Linked DNA regions of Homo sapiens: region 2 is linked to region 1. A link means that fine-mapping ties the variant in region 1 to the expression of a gene that starts in the linked region. Tissue or cell type: whole blood. Region 1 holds a variant in brackets; the other region holds the start of a gene. All regions are shown on one strand. Distances are from middle to middle.

Region 1 (8,105 bases):
TTAGTGCATTACAATCCAAGGAAAAGAGTTAAAAGCCAGATGAAAATGGGAGGAGGAAAAGCTACAACAATCAATTATCTCCAGGGGAAAAAATATCTATCTGGAAGTAAGAAAACAGATGTATACCAAAGAGAAAAGCATGTGCAGAGAAACAGCACTGCAGGAAGAAGGATAGGGTAGCAAAGTTGACAGCACAAAGCCCATCTTCTGGCCACCCTTTCCCCTGGGGAAAAAGGATGTGGAGTAGGCCATTCCCCTTACCTCCTCTGCAGTGACCATGGCAATCACATTCACTCCCTGCTCCCACACCATCTGCCAGAAGTCGTGGCACGTGTGTGGCAGGGGCCCCTGGGTGGCTATGTAGTGCCATTCTGCCCCGCCAACCACCACCTAAAAACCAAGAAAAGTATCGGTAAATAAACCCCAAGTCCGGACAACATTACCTGCTGATCACCTGTCCATCTGTATCCACCTTAAAACCTTGGATATATTTTTGGGGCCGAATGAATTAGTTCAATGAACAAAAACCCTGAGACTACAGAGGCTAGTGTAGTGACACATTCTCACATGAAAATACTTTTTGCCACTCAAGCCTATTAAATATTTATCTAATCCTGGTTTTTGAGACTGAGTCTTGCTCTGCTGCTTAGGCGGGAGTACAGTGGCACGATCTTGGCTCACTGCAACCTCCGCCTCCTGGGTTCAAGCAATTCTCCCGTCTCAGAATCCCAAGGAGCTGGGATTACAGGCACTCGCCATCATGCCCGGCTAATTTTTGTATTTTTGTAGAGATGGCGTTTCACCACATTGGCCAGGCTGGTCTTGAACTCCTGACTTCAGGTGATACGCCCATCTCAGCCTCCCAAAGTGCTGGGATTACAGGCCTGAGCCACCAGGCTTGGCCTTTACCTGATCTTTGTTTGCAACTCACAGTATATGCAAACTAGTGCCTATTAAAAACCATACACATACACACATGTATAGATGCATATATATGAACATGTATAACTTAGGATTTACTTGTTACAGAAATAATAGTTACTGCTTACTATGTGCAATGTACTCTAACACTTTCCATTCTTTTCTCTTTTCTAGTCGATTTCATTGAAACACACACACACACACACACACACACACACACACACACACACACACACACCTGGTCATGACCACTAAACTGATTTCACATTCTACCACTGTGTTGTAATCCAGTTTGAAAAGCAGTGCTTCATGGCATCCAATTAAACAATAAAAAAAAAAAAAAAGATCATGAAACAACATCCCTTTTGGAGCACTATCTTTCTCCTGTGGATCTGAGATGAAGTGTATCATAAACCTCTGCTGTCACTGCTGCTCTGTGGTGCCATGCACGGCAGAGATGCTACGAATGCTCTTGTCAACAGCATATATTTTATCAATAGCTTCACCTTGGTAGTACCACAGCATCCAACTGAACTACAGTCATGACATGACTTTGGATAATAAAATTATTACCCCTGCAGCTCAGGGTGATCAGGGGAAGATAATTCTACAGCTATAAATACTAGCTGCTGAGAACCATAAATAAGAAGTTGTACCCAAAGTGTTAAAGGTCATGCTGTCAAGGTGAAATGGTGGCCTTTGGAGGAATTCTTTCTGTTCTCCCTTCCAGGTCTGTGCCTTGATATTGCAAAGTCAGGTCCCTTCTACATCTATACAATGCAGATCTCTGGAGAGTTCAAAAAGTAATGAAGTAATCATTGTTTGAAACTTTTTCCCCTCATTTATTTGATAAAACTGTATGCTAACTTGGTTCAAACAAAAACAATGTAAGTTATTGTCTCATTACACAAGGCATGTTTAGGTCAAAGCTGGCAAGAAAAATCCATTTTCCAAATACTGGTGGGAGATAACATTCATATATTTGCTGGCTAGGAGTTTGGTTTATCCGTGGAATTGTGATTTTAAACATTAGCCTCTCTGGCACCCAACGTATAGGAAACATAAATACTTCCAGAGAATGCTGCTGCTGCCTGGGGCCTTTCAGTATATTCCAAGTATTGACAGAAGGGTATTAAAAACTGCATTAAAAACACAACAAGCAGTGCTGCTGAGGTAGATTTCACACATGTGATTCCACCTCTGGAGCAAATAAATCTCTGTTCTGTGTTAACGGCTGCTTGGAACCCAGGGGGGAAAACACTGGCAAAATATACTCCTCTATTCCAAAACACAGGGACAAGTTCTTGCAAGGTCCACGGGTCTATGAAATGCACCCATGTCTAACCCGGATCCACAGGATGAAATGTGGGCCACAGAGAATACCAAGGAAGGGAATGCTCCTCGGTTAACAATGCCCGATGGGCACAGTTTATACAAAGTGACAGCTTTTTTCAGAGAGCAGATGGAAAATAGTGGAAGAGATCTGGCCAAAAGAAGAAGATAATATAATATTTCTATGTAAGATTTTCATAGACACTCTATCAGGAAGCAGCTGTGTGATCTGCATCTTTGTTGGAATACATTACTTTGGTCATTGTTTCATAATGTAAACTAAGCCCATGAAACCCACCACTGACAGTTTATTTAAGAGTTTCCTAGAGTTCACTTTTTACTTCTCACTCTCAAAAATCCAAGTTAAAATTAGTAATATGATCTATGATAGTTACTCTTTTATATTTCTTTTGACAGTACTTTCTAATTATTAAAAACTATGGTTATCTGTGTATATTAATAAAAATAGTATATACCCAACCATACTATACTTTTCCCATTCTGTATCAAAACTAGTTATAATTGATACACAAGCTAGATATCTAACTCGCCTTTTACAGGCTTAAAAAAACCTGTTAATAATTCTGCTACAGTTGAAAAGTCCAATGAGGAAAGTAAGTAATTCTAGACAAGGCCGAAAACAGGTTTCTAAGGCTATTGATCACAGTGGACTATCAATTGAACCTTGTGTTATTTAACAACACCTATAACACTGGCTTTAACATTAATAGATGAACAAATCTCCCACTTCAGAGTTCAGAGCAAATGGTGACATTCTAAATAAGTGTCCCTCTGTTAACAGGGACTCTGAGGAAGGTAAGCTATTTAAGAAACATTTAACTACAGGTACACATGTATCCATAAGTCAAAGTTTTAACTGCAGAAGTGCTAAACTATGTAATACTGACATATAAAGGTTTGAAGTATTTGAAATAACAACAAAAATTTAGTAACACAAATTCATTGACTAATGTGGCAAATCTTTCAAGATTCAATATTAACCACACTTTTATAGTGTAGGTGAAAATTACTCCACTCTTCTAAATACCATGCAATAATAGGACTCGCGCTTTTATAAAATGCATAACCTGCAGTATTATAAGGGAAAAACAATAGTTTCTATTGTTATTGAACATGACACTTTTATGTCAGTAACGCAATACCTGTAACTTCCAAAGTCTCCAGCACCTGCTAATTACAAACTGAAAAGGATAATCTGAGTATAGAGAGAGTTACAGCCCACAGAGAGAAGGAAAAGTTAAAGCCTCTGTAATGAGCGAGCTTCAGAAATCGCTGACCTGAAGTTCTTCCTGAGGCTGCTAGACTTCCTTCTCTCTGCAGTGATAGACATGCCCTTCCACTTGACTAAGAAAAGCACAGGAGTTCAAAAACAATCCCTGAGGGTCTGGGGACAAGCCAAAAGGTACAACTGCAGCCCACACATTTTCTTCTCCCCGCATTTTTCCCTTTAACCCAGCCATCTTTACCAAACCTTCTAACAGGCTTGCCTTCTTACCTTGATGTGGGAGGCATTAATGTATCCTGTGTTATTTTCTTTGGTTGGTATCAGCTCTACTCGATTCTCCTCATAGGGGACAACTTCACGGATTCGGCTGCGCTCGGCGTTTTCTGGCAGAGCTGCTGTGCTGAAAATGCCATTCGCCTTTTTCTTTGGAATTTGCTCATATTCTGTGAACACCATTCCCTCTTCTAGTTTCTTCTTCAGGGTTCTGAACTGCAACAGAAATTGATCTTCAGCTCTCTAAATTATCTGATCCAAAAACTCAATGAAACAACCAAATTTCTTTAAATATTTAGCGATTGTGTTAAAAGAGATTTCAAGTTCTACAATCAATGCTTGGTTTGTCTCATTATCAACCATATTGATATTTTCCCTTGTCTAATAACCATTTTCCTTCTTACTCATATTATAAGTAGAACAAATCTGCAAGAACTAGCAAGAGTTGAAATTCAAAAATCAATATTTTTGCTATTAACAACTCTGTTTAAAGTCCTAATGATAAAGAGACTGTTAATCTTAATTATCCAAACATCCTTTCCTCCACCTATATAGCTGTTTTTAAGATGATACTGGTCCACAGTTCTATAGCTCTGAGGATTAAATCACTCTCTTTTTTCCTCCTTCCTGGCCAAACTACTAATTCCAATAACATGGTATTAATTGGGTTAAATGATTTCTCTGAAGTCCCTTCTGGCTTTAAAAACATTCTAATTCTGGATACATACTGGCAGAAATCGAACACCCTGGTGT[T/C]ATTAGTACTTTATTACATTTATACAACCTGTTTCTTAACCTTCTGACAGCAATTTCGGGAACTAAGGATCCACCTTTCTTCGCTTCTGAAACACTACCATGCAGCTGCTTTCTGCTTTTCAAAACCCATGTTGTCACAATGCATTATCCAGACAATTATAAATCAGCCTCATTTTATGGTCATACGAGGGGACAGCATTTTTAAAGAACTCTATAAATGCTTGGATACAAGGTCATGTCTTTTGCGGGAGACATGGATGGAGCTGGAGGCTATTATCCTTAGCAAACTAAAGCAGAAACAGAAAACCAAATACTGCATGTTGTCACTTATAAGTGGGAGCTAAATGATAAGAATTTATGAACACAAAGAAGGAAACAACAGACACTGGGGCCTACCTGAGGGTGGAGGGTGGAAGGAGGGAGAGGAGCAGAGAGGATAACCATGGGGTACTGGGCTTAATACCTGGGTGATGAAATAATACGTACAACAAACCCCTGTGACATGTGTTTACCTATGTAATAAACCTTCACATGTGCCCCCAAAACTAAAATAAAAGTTTAAAAAAATTAAAAATAAAAATAAATGCTTGGATAAAATAATCACTTCCTAAGAAGTGGCAATTGCTCACAAAAATCACAGAAATTCAGAGCTACTGCAAGTGTTTAACTTGTGCATTTTACAAAACAGGAAGTGGGCCCAAAGAAATTGAGTGACTTGACCAAGTCATACAGCATGTTAGGGGCTGATGGTTTTAGTCAACCAATGATCTGCCAACCGGACAAAGCAGGAAGACCGGAATGGAGAAACATGAGATGCTGAAAGGGACTGATTTAATGCAACACAGTTATACCTGATCTTCCTAATCTCAGATTGAAGAAAGAATGCATCACACAAATCTCAATGCTGGCATATTCGGGCAAGGAGGGTGTTTTGGGATCCTAAGACTACAGAGAATGAGTCACATTGACAAGCCTGCCACTTACCCTCTCGTCCATGGGAACCCGGGTGGCATCAACTCGATTCTCTTCCCGCCCTGAGACTCGAGCCACCGAGAGCCCATTCAATGCTGCCAACATCAGCGGCCTCTTCTGTGCCTCCAGGCCTGCCATCTTCTGCTTCTCTAGATTCTTGCGGCAAGAAAAGGCATGTGCTCATTGTTTATAATACTAGTAGAATGTTGGAATGTGTTTTAATCTCCTCAAATCTGTAACTCCCCAGCCAAGGAATGCAGACAATCACCATCAGTAGGGCAAATTCAAACACAGCCTTCCCACTATTCCCACTGGGCCCCTGGAAGCCAGTTCCTACAGGACTCCTGAGCTTTTATTCTTAATTAACTCCTTAGCTAGATAGACCAATAAATAAGAAAAAAGACTCCCTACAAATACACCCTGCCATAGGGCAAAACAAAACAAAACAAAAACAAAATAGGGTACATGCGATACACTTTAGAAAGGTAAAGATGACAGGACAAGGAAAAGAGAAACAGGGTTATATGAACCATCTAATCCAATCACAGTGACGGACCTTCTGCACAGACGGAACGGAGCAAAACTTGTAAAACAGTTTGTTGTTGATTGAGAGATCCACACACATAAACTGTAGAGGAAAATCTTCCTAAGTTTCCGTCCTGAGGGGCTAATGCTGAGGACGTTAATTCTATAATTAATCTCTGATCCTTGGAATACCTAAGGGTGTGTCATCCCCAGAATTGAGAGCTGATGTGGTTTAGCAAACTCACTAACAGCAAAGCCTGGCTGGGGTCACCTAAGATGATCCGCAGGCATCACCCTCCAGGCTTCACCCAGAGGGCCCACAGTAACAGAGACGGTGCCTCCCAACACAAATGGTGGGACATCACTGCATGCCACTGAGCTATGGGGGAACATGGACTCCGGAACTGAGCAGACCACTTAGGGAAAGGTTTTGATGTTTACACCTGGTCCTGGTTTGTGGCTTTTTGATTTCCATCCTCTCTGCCCTCACCTCTAAATTGAAATTGGATTGGGCAGGGCTGGTTTTTAGCCTCCTGCTGTGCTTCCTCAGGTCCTTGAAACTAACCGAGTATGAAAAAGCTCTCTTTATGCTCACTTCAAGCAAGCCACGAAGGGCCTTTCCTAAAATTAAGTGTGTCTTTGAAGTTAAGGGAAGAACACAGGCATTCCTCATAGAAGCAGATGAGTTTTGCAGGGTTTAGGATTTTGATTCACAATGAAGGGCAACCAATTTGCAGATTCATTTGACTGACACAGATGAAGAGCCATTGAATCCTTGGTTTCTTTTCAAGCCTTGAGAGACTTTTTTCCTTATTCTATGATGTATAAATTCACTCCCCAGGAAGAGGTCTTGACGGAGCCATCCCACAGGGTTATGAATTATTCTAATTGCGGGTGGGAGGACTGCATGACGCCCTTCCATGTGTCTCCACAATGTCACCTACAATCAGAATGAAGCCTGTGTGAGTGACACTGACAACAGGATGCCTATCCTGGTGGCAGCCGACTCATCAGACAAACCAAAGGAGTATCTCAGAGGAGGTTACTGGGAGAAAGTGAGAAAAGCACTGTGAAAGGAAAATATCTTGGGCCCCAAATCACTAAGCTAAAAGGAAAAGTCAAGCTGGGCACTGCTTGGGCAAACCTGCCTCCCATTCTATTCAAAGTCACCCCTCTGCTCACTGAGATAAATGCATATCTGATTGCCTCCTTTGGAGAGGCTAATCAGAAACAAAAGAATGCAACCATTTGCCTCTCACCTACCTGTGACGTGGAAGCCCCCTCCCTACTTCAAGTCTTCCTGCCTTTGCTTCAAGTTGTCCTGCCTTTCCAGACAGAAACAATATTGACTGATGTCTCATGTCTCCCTAAAATGTATAAAACCAAGCCATGCCCCGACCACCTTGGGCACATGTCATCAGGACCTCCTGAGGCTGTGTGACAGGTGTGTACCCTCAACCTTGGCAGAATAAACTTTCTACATTAACTGAGACCTGTCTCAGATTTTCTGGGTTTACAGTACCCAAGGACTTACCACCAAAAGATATAATATTCTTACAAATGACCCTGGTCTCTCAATTCTCGGGAACCCCCTGGGGGAAGATTCTGGATTAAAATTTTTAGGTCTTTGTTTGCTTGCTGCTAGTTTTGGGGAGAAAGAGTTTTTCTTTCTTTTTTTTTATTTCTGCCACCTCTTTCACTTGGGAATCTATTTTCACTGCTCTCCAAAGTTTTGAGAAGGCAATAGTCCTGAAAAATGGGTCCTGAGCTCCTCTCAGCAGTCCTGCTTTCTTTCCACCTGCACTGTAAGGTGACCCTAACTGGGTCTAAGACAAAAAGTAATTAACTTGTCTTTCTCGGGAAAGGATTATTACTCAGTGATAAATCAAAGTATGTCTCTTTGATCCTTCTCACTCACCCTATCAGCTTGTTACCAGAGATAAAAAAAATAATAATAATTCACAAGCTCTGATCTGTGATCAGAGGGCCTTTTCTTCTCAGTGCATCAACTTCTGGCTAGGGGACTACAAGCAGGGAAGTATCTTCAAGGAAGCAGTAGGAGCCAGAATGAGAAGCTATAAAA
Region 2 (8,105 bases), 95 kb before region 1:
ACCTGGATGTTCCAGGATACTCTCACTCTCTCAAGATCCTTAAAACACATTTGCAAGACCCTTTGAAGCCATTTATAGATTCCAGGGATTGGAACCTAATATCTATGAGTGCCAACATTCAGCACTTCATAACTGTTTTCATGTATGTTGGTCTTTACACCTTGGTATGACTAGGATCTATCACAGTGTAAGTACATAGTATGTCCTCAATAAGTGACATGTAGACATAGATGCAGAACTATACAGCATCTAGGCCCTTTGCTCACGTTCACTGGGATACCTTCTTTGCTAAGGCTTCATTTCCCTAGGCCAGAGCTATTTCTTTCATGTGCTAATCTGTGGTTGGAAGGATCTTTTACTCATAAATTAGATCAACTTCTAGGTTAGAGAAATTAAGCAAAGGAGTTTTCGTCCTTGTACCACTTCTCCTGAGTTTCAGTGAGGCAAAGTAACCAAAAACACTCCTTTCAAATTCCATACCTCCTACGTTATGGAGCAGAGGGCGTAGGAAAAGTGGATGGGTCCTGGCTGCTCAAAGACTTCACGGAATGTGAGATTACAGAGTGGCAGAGTGACAAGTATGGGCTTCATGAAGAGCGCTGTCATCAGTCTCCCCGGGCTGGTTTATTGCCATTCTTTGGCTGTTTATTTTAAACACAGTTTTCTTAGTAATTTAAGCTCCTAAATTCATGGCTACTGCTTCAGTGACCATTTCCCCATCTCGAGTCATTTAAGTTCATCACAGGGATTTTTCTGAAATGAGGCGGTTTCTTTTCCAGTGTTCTCAAATCACAGTCACCTCCACCCTCAAGAATAAGCCAGCACTCATCTGGAAAGATAATTCGGTAGCTATGTAATTGCTTTTTTCTCAGCTGTGGAAATCTTTCCCAATTAAAGTGGAAAAAGTTACTTGCAATAAAAAAAGTAAACAGGTAGATTACTTTGCACAATTAATCATTGAAACAGTAAACTGTCTACTGTATTGTAATTGTTTACTTCTACGTCAGTCTTTTCATCTTTTTGCTGGTTAGAGCCCCCAGAAATCAGAATGAGATTCCATGACGTTTATTCAACCTTTAAATATTTTTTCCATTCTCTCTGTGTTCCAGGAGTAGTGATAAGAGCTGGTGATGTAAGGGTAACAAAAACAGACTCATTCCCTGCCCTCATGGAGCTTGTACAGTCTGGTGGAGGATGTAAACACTAATCAGGTCATCACACAGACAAATGCAAACTGTCAGTGGTCTCACATGCCAAGGCTGTTTATATACATGTAAACAGTTATGAAGTGCTGAATGTTGGCACCCCAGCCAACCCACAATGCTGCTGGCAGATCAGTCTAAAACACTGGACTCAATGTGCCACCCCTCACTTAAACGCTTTAACTGGCTCTCCCATGGCCTCTGGGGCAGAACTCACCTCTGGAGAAGATGCTCTTCAGCTGTTCCTGCCTCATTTCCTGTCCTCTCTTCCAGATGCTCAGGGGCCCCCAACTACAAGCTCTGTGCTTTCAGGGTCTTCTGTCTTTGTACGCAGTTCTCTCTGCCCAGAAAACTCTTCTCCCCACCTCCACTTGCAAAATCCTGTCCATCCTTCAGGCTCAGCTCTAACGTTACTTGAATGTGATGCCTGTCTTGACTGTTTAGCAGGCTAAAGCTGTCACTCCCTGCCTGTACTACCACAGAACATTTTGTACAAGCCACCATAACTGCACTTATCCCAGTGAACTGTGTTTGTTTGCAGCAAAACACTGTGGTTAGGAACATGGACCTTGAATTCAGACTGACTTGGAAACCAAATTCTGCAATTTATTGTGTGGCCTTGAAAATCATTCCTTCTGGGTCTTAGTTTCCTTCCTAATTTTGGCAATGAGGGGCATAATACCTAACTCATTAGCCTGTTGTAAAGATAAACCAGATAATGTGTTTAATGATGGAGCACGATGCCTGGTCAACAATACTCAATAACTAATGGTATTATCAAACTTGAATGTGCCAAATGCAAGGACCTAGGACTACATTTTGTCCACTTTTTTTTTTTTTTTTTTTTTGAGACAGAGTTTCGCTCTTCTTGCGCAGGCTGGAGTGCAATGGTGCGATTTTGGCTCACAGCAACCTCCACCTCCCAGGTTCAAGCGATTCTCCTGCCTCAGCCTCCCGAGTAGCTGGGATTACAGGCATGCACCACCACACCTGGCTAATTTTGTATTTTTAGTAGAGATGAGGTTTCTCCATGTTGGTCAGGCTGGTCTTGAACTCTCGACCTCAGGTGATCCGCCTACCTCGGCCTCCCAAAGTGCTGGGATTACAGGCGTGAGCCACCACAGCCGGCTGATGTCCATCTTTCTATCCCAGTTGCTGGCCATAGTCAGTCGAAGTTTCTTAAAATGCATAAATGAAAATACTATCATAACTTCCTTTACTTGAAGACGGGTTAGAGGCTTATTTAGTTTGCCACTAATAAGGGCTTTTTTGTTTTCTTTTGAGACAAGGTCCTGCTCTGTCACCCAGGCTGGAGTATAATGGAGTCACCACAGCTCACTGCAACCTTGACTTCCCAGGCTCAAGCTATCCTCCCACCTCAGCACCACTTGAGAGGTGGTTAATTTCCCATAGAGACGGGGTCTTTATGTTGCCCAAGCTGGTCTCCAACTCTCCAATTCCTGGGCTCAAATGATCCTCCCACCTTGGCCTCCCACAGTGTTGGGATTACAGGGCTGAGCCACCACACCCAGCTGATAAAGACATTTTACTGAAATGCCAAAAATTCCACTGATTTTACATCTCCAATCATATTAATCCTTTCCCTTTGCTCAACCAGTCCTGAACTTACACAGGTAACTGTTTGAGGTCCTATTTTGAAGTAGTGGTTTCTGCTAAATGATCTCGTCACAATTTTAGTCTTTACTGCATGTACATCAATTCCAGTCTTTACATAATCATGTGGAACACGGATTATATTTTCCTTTCTCATATGAAAAGTAATAGCGTGCATGTGTATAGGATTTACGTTTCAGGCTTTGTGGGCTTTAAATCCTTTGACTCCTAACCCAAGTGACTTTTCTAAGATCACAGTTCGTGGGTGGTCAAGCATATTAAAACTACTGCAAACTCTAGCGCAGTGTCCTGGACACTGGCCACAGCATCGCATTATCCCCCAACAGCCTAAATTCCTTGAAGGCAAGGTTCTCTCTGGCTTCCTCTGCAACGTTCGCAGCATGCCTCAGAGACTCGGTGAGCTGGGCCGGCCAATGCATTTCCTCTTCCGTCCATGTAATTCCACTAGAGGAGCAGAGGGCAAACTACGTTCCCATTAAAGCCACAAGGTTTAAAAACCTCTAACCTTGGAAAAGCACACTTCAACCCTCTGCACACCAAACTTCTCTACTGTGGTTTCCCCTCTGCCGCTTTCTCCTTGGCGTTCCCCGATCACTGCCTCTAGGGTCTTTACAAGGGACAGCGAACGTAAGGTTTCGGAGCTGGCTTCGCCCCCTTCTATTTACCGGGGGCTGGTCATCCTTCGGGCCAGGCTGACTGTCTAGGGGTGGCCCTCGGATACCTGGTCCCCGCAGGTGACCCCCCTCCCTCCCACCGAGGAGGAGGGCGCGTCCCGCTCGCTCCGTGGAGACGCCGCGGAGGCGCACACGCCTCACGCCTCCTCGCAGAAGCCACAGGGGCTGCGGCTCTTTGTCGCGGCCACACCGGAAACGGCCCGGAGCGCGCGCGGGGCGGCCGCCGAGGGTCGCGGCGCTAGGCGGGGCCGCCGGGCCCGTCCCCCTCCCCGCGGGGGCGCGCGAGGCCCGGGCGGGGCCGCCCTCCCTTCCGGGGAGCGGGGAGCCGCCGCCGCGTCCGCCGGGCGGCTCCCACCCCGCCCCCCGCAGCTCTAGGTGACGCGTCTCCAATAACAGCTCGCCGGGAGCCGCAGCTCGGGCACAGCCGGCGGCCGCGCCCCGCCGCCACCATGAGGGCCGAGGGCCTCGGCGGCCTGGAGCGCTTCTGCAGCCCGGGCAAAGGCCGGGGGCTGCGGGCTCTGCAGCCCTTCCAGGTGGGGGACTTGCTGTTCTCCTGCCCGGCCTATGCCTACGTGCTCACGGTCAACGAGCGGGGCAACCACTGCGAGTACTGCTTCACCAGGTAGGGCGGCGGCGGCGGCGGCGGCGGGCGGGAGCCGGGGGCGCCGAGCGGGAGGCTTGGACGGCGGCGCCAGGAAGTGCGTGCGGCTCGCGGGGTCCTAGCGCCGGCCCTTGGGGCGGGGTGGGGGGCGGGGAGGGGAGGAGGCCCCGCGCTGCGGCCCCGCGCTGCAGCCCCACGCCAGGCGCCACGTGCGAGAGGAAACAGGACCGGTGCCCCGCTGCACGCCCTGCACTGCACGTTTTCAGAGTTGCTCACGCTGGATGCGCAAACCCGGGCGTGCAGGTTCCTGCCCTCAAATGTGGGCTCCGAGCCAGGCTTGTTCCAAGCCTGGGCACTCACTGCCCTCCCGGTGCATTGGCAGCGGAGCCCCAAATTTGGGCAGCCACGGGCTGTCACCTTTAACTTATGCTTCCTGCGGTGTGTTCTGTTACCCACAGTCCAGCCCTGCCTCAGATTGGCCGTTTCTTCCAAGGAATTTAATGACTTAGTATATGTCTTGTAAAGTACGCTTACATGTTAAAGTACGCTTACATGGGTGTTTGGAGGGACGCCAGTGGGCACTGACCACACCCCCTGGATTCTGAGGTGCTGCGACGATGAGTTGCAGTGTCCAGTTTCGGTTTGGGATTAGGAAAACATGGTCGCAGGAAGGGATTGGGCAAGATGTGTGGTTGCTAATGGTATTTAATTGTAAGATACCATATGTATATATGTGTCTGTGTTTGTATATATGATGCATATACATTTGCACACACCAACACATAATTATATCCTCAACTCTTATGAGAGTTTCAGAGCTTAAAGGCACATTAGAAATCACCAATTCAGTCTTGTCTTTCACTTAATGGATGAGAAAACTAAAGCCCAGAGAGAAAGTGGAGTTACCTTTATCCATTCACACCAGTAGTGAAGGGAGTGAAATCTGGCCTTATTCACTTCTGCCTATTTCTCACTGGTTAGGTGCTCAGTAAATTTACTAAGGCAGGAGGCATGGCATTGGGGTTAAGTTTATATCAGGCCTTCCAGTACTCTGAGTAGAGACCATGATTTGCTTTCTTTGAACCTCAGTTTCTTCATCTTTGAAATGGAGATTCCTGGGCTGGATTAAGCTGACCTGCGGTCCTGCAGGGACCTTTTGAGTACAGGTCTCAAGTCCAGCATACTCAATCTCTCAGACCTGTGTGCCTCATTCTACAATAAGACGTAGCAAAAGAAGGGACAAAGGCTAAATATTGTAGTAATCTTGCCCAGACTCCCTGCCAGAACTGTCTTCCGCTTGGGGGGACCTGGAAAGGAACTAGACACGGAATCATGCCGTGGGCAGCTTAAGGGCTGTATGTGATGTGGCTCTTTGAATTGGTGAGCCAAGAGCTAAAGGGTCATGGCACCACTTTGCAACGTTTGAGTGAAGTGAGCATTGGGTTTTCCCAAAGTTAAAAAGGCTGCTGTGACTGGTCCCTTGATCTTCTGAGCCTTGCTGTGGCTCGGAGTCTGCAGCAGCGTGGGTGTCTGCAGTGGCAGGAGCAAAGCAGGTCAGGCAGCACAGAAGGAGCCTCCATCAGGGATCCTGGCAATTCCTGGAAGCCATCGCCTAAGACCATGGATGCCAGGCACATAGTAGGTGCTTACTTTATATGGGTAGTTGCCAGCCCTGGCCCCCAGTGAATGAAAGATCAAATCCCTCTGGATTTAGAAGGGATGAGAAGAACTGAGAGATGCTTCTCTTTAGCTTTAAGTCTCCTAATTGTATCTACTACGCATACCCCCAACCTTAGAACATTAATGGATGGTCAGATGCAAGTTCACAAAGCATTCAGCCTGGATTATTCTGCCATATGTGACAGTTTGCTGCCTCTTTTGTTGTTAAATTTTTCTGATTGACATTTATTAGTGTTACTCACTGTTGCCTTGGGTCCCTCACCAGGGCTGCAACTTGCAATGGGGTGTTATTACAACTTGCAAACCACTTCTCTGTTTGATTTCCCTGACCTTATGTCAATACCCGTAGTTTATTTCCTCTCTCTCCCCAAAGAATTATTTGAAGTCAATTAAAATAATACAAAAGAAATAATATCCATGATACTTATGCAATTAGAAATATCCTTGTACCCTACTTCATGATTTCTATTAAATCTGAATCATTTACTATTAGTGGTTAGGTCATCTGATAGATTCAGCATCAGTTCCTCTGTCAGCAATTTGTATATGACTTAGGACAAATCAGTCTGTCCAGATGTATGAGGGGAACGTGTATTTTCCTCCATAGGGCCTCAAAGTATAGGAGTAGAATTCTGGAAATGTTCATACTTACAGGTCAAAATCTGCTGCCTGCCCCAGCTCCACACACCCAAAAGAAAGCTACCCCTTATCCTTTCTTTTGCCAGAAGTTTAACATAAACAATACTGCTTAAGATAAATGAATGACCCAAGAATTTCCATGTCATACTAATTGTATCAGGATCTAACTTTTTTTGAAGAAAAGAAAAGTGATTTCTTTAGGTAGGAATAAGTATATGCTATAAATTGAGAAATAATGGAAAATGTCTTAAGTCTCAACAGAATGGGATTCTTACGGTCAGGGCAATTCAGACAAAGGTTTGCTTTGGGGAATTTTTAATTTGTATCACATTTCTCAGTCTGGTGGGTGCCATTGGAGAACATGCGTATCTTGCCTGAACTGCTAGAAGGCAGCTCCTAATAATATTATATAAAGTTTTTCCACTTGGAAGCTGTCCCTATCAGACTTCTCAGATACACTTTATACACACATACACACATAAATGCACACATACACATTTTGGCCATTTATCACCATTTTTTGGTGTGGTTTTTTTTTTTTTTTTTTTTTTTGAGACAGAGTTTCGCTCTTGTTGCCCAGGCTGGAGTGCAGTGGCGTGATCTCAGCTCACCACAACCTCCACCTCCCCGGTTCAAGCAATTCCTCTGCCTCAGCCTCCCGAGTAGCTGGGATTACAGGAATGCGTCACCACACCTGGCTAATTTTGTATTTTTAGTAGAGACAGGGTTTCTCCATGTTGGTCAGGCTGGTCTCAAACTCCCGGCCTCCCAAAGTGCTGGGATTACAGGCATGAGCCACTGCGCCGGGCCAAGTATGTTGTATTTTAAACTAAGTTTTAGACTTTTTTTTTTTTTTGAAACAGTCTCGTCTCACTCTGTTGCCCAGGCTGGAGTGCAGTGGCACGATCTTGGCTCACTGCAACCTCCGCCTCCCGGGTTCAAGTGATTTCCGACTAATTTTTGTATTTTTAGTAGAGACAGGGTTTCATCATGTTGGCCAGGCTGGTCTCGAACTCCTGACCTCAAGTGATCCACCCACCTCAGCCTCTCAAAGTGCTAGGATTACAGGCGTGAGCCACCGTGCCTGGCCTAGACATATTTTAACCCCCAATGTGATTTGTCTCAGAAGGAGAGAAATCTGCTTTAACCCAGTGTTCCATCTAAATATTCATTCTATGTGCCATTCTTCAGGTAGGCAGATCTTTTGATCTTTAGTCTCCCTTTTGATCTTTAGTTCTCTTGGCTCATGGGTTATTTAAGGATGAGATTATTGACATTTCTTTGTTTGTTCTGAGTGTAGGGGGAACCAGGAAAGCCCATTTAGCCTCCTTGGAATAGAGCTGTTAGAACCCAGTTTCAGTGAATTTCGGTCATGTCTGGCTTAGATTAGTTGTTTTAAAAATTAAATTGTTTGCCTGAGCCAAACCCTGTGATTAAGGTGTCCTATTTCAGCAGTTATAAAGGCTTTTTTTCCTCATGTCCCCCAGATTTATTCTCTAGCGTATTCATCTTAGCTTTCCTCTTGTTTTATCAAACCGGCAGAATAATTTTTAGTTGATCTTAATCAGTATTAAGGGCCATGAAATCCTGATGCTGTTTTCCTGAAGTTCTCTGAACTAGCCCTGGTTCTGGCTGCCTGAAGCTGTGCATGAGAAGGGGACCTTGTGCCCAGGA

The links. PIP is the estimated chance that this variant, and not a neighbour inherited with it, causes the effect.
Region 2: SMYD2 starts here. The variant in region 1 is fine-mapped to the expression of SMYD2 in whole blood (TOPMed, PIP 0.98).

The regions. Positions count from the first base shown.
Region 1 is chr1:214,372,450-214,380,554 of GRCh38, forward strand. PTPN14 (protein tyrosine phosphatase non-receptor type 14) reads right to left here. Exons shown (of 19, transcript NM_005401.5): 14 at 5,510-5,653; 15 at 3,770-3,988; 16 at 262-390. Among named protein-coding and RNA genes, the nearest start is that of SMYD2, 95 kb to the left of the region's middle. RefSeq lists an enhancer at 7,883-8,105. The variant T/C (reference allele first, on the strand shown) is at 4,526.
Region 2 is chr1:214,277,295-214,285,399 of GRCh38, forward strand. SMYD2 (SET and MYND domain containing 2) reads left to right here and starts at 3,865. Exons shown (of 12, transcript NM_020197.3): 1 at 3,865-4,133. The coding sequence starts at 3,961. It overlaps LOC124904509 (a long non-coding RNA gene), which reads right to left and starts at 3,742. Exons shown (of 2, transcript XR_007066876.1): 1 at 1,420-3,742. RefSeq lists an enhancer at 2,820-3,385 and silencers at 3,665-3,954, 3,975-4,094, 4,125-4,284.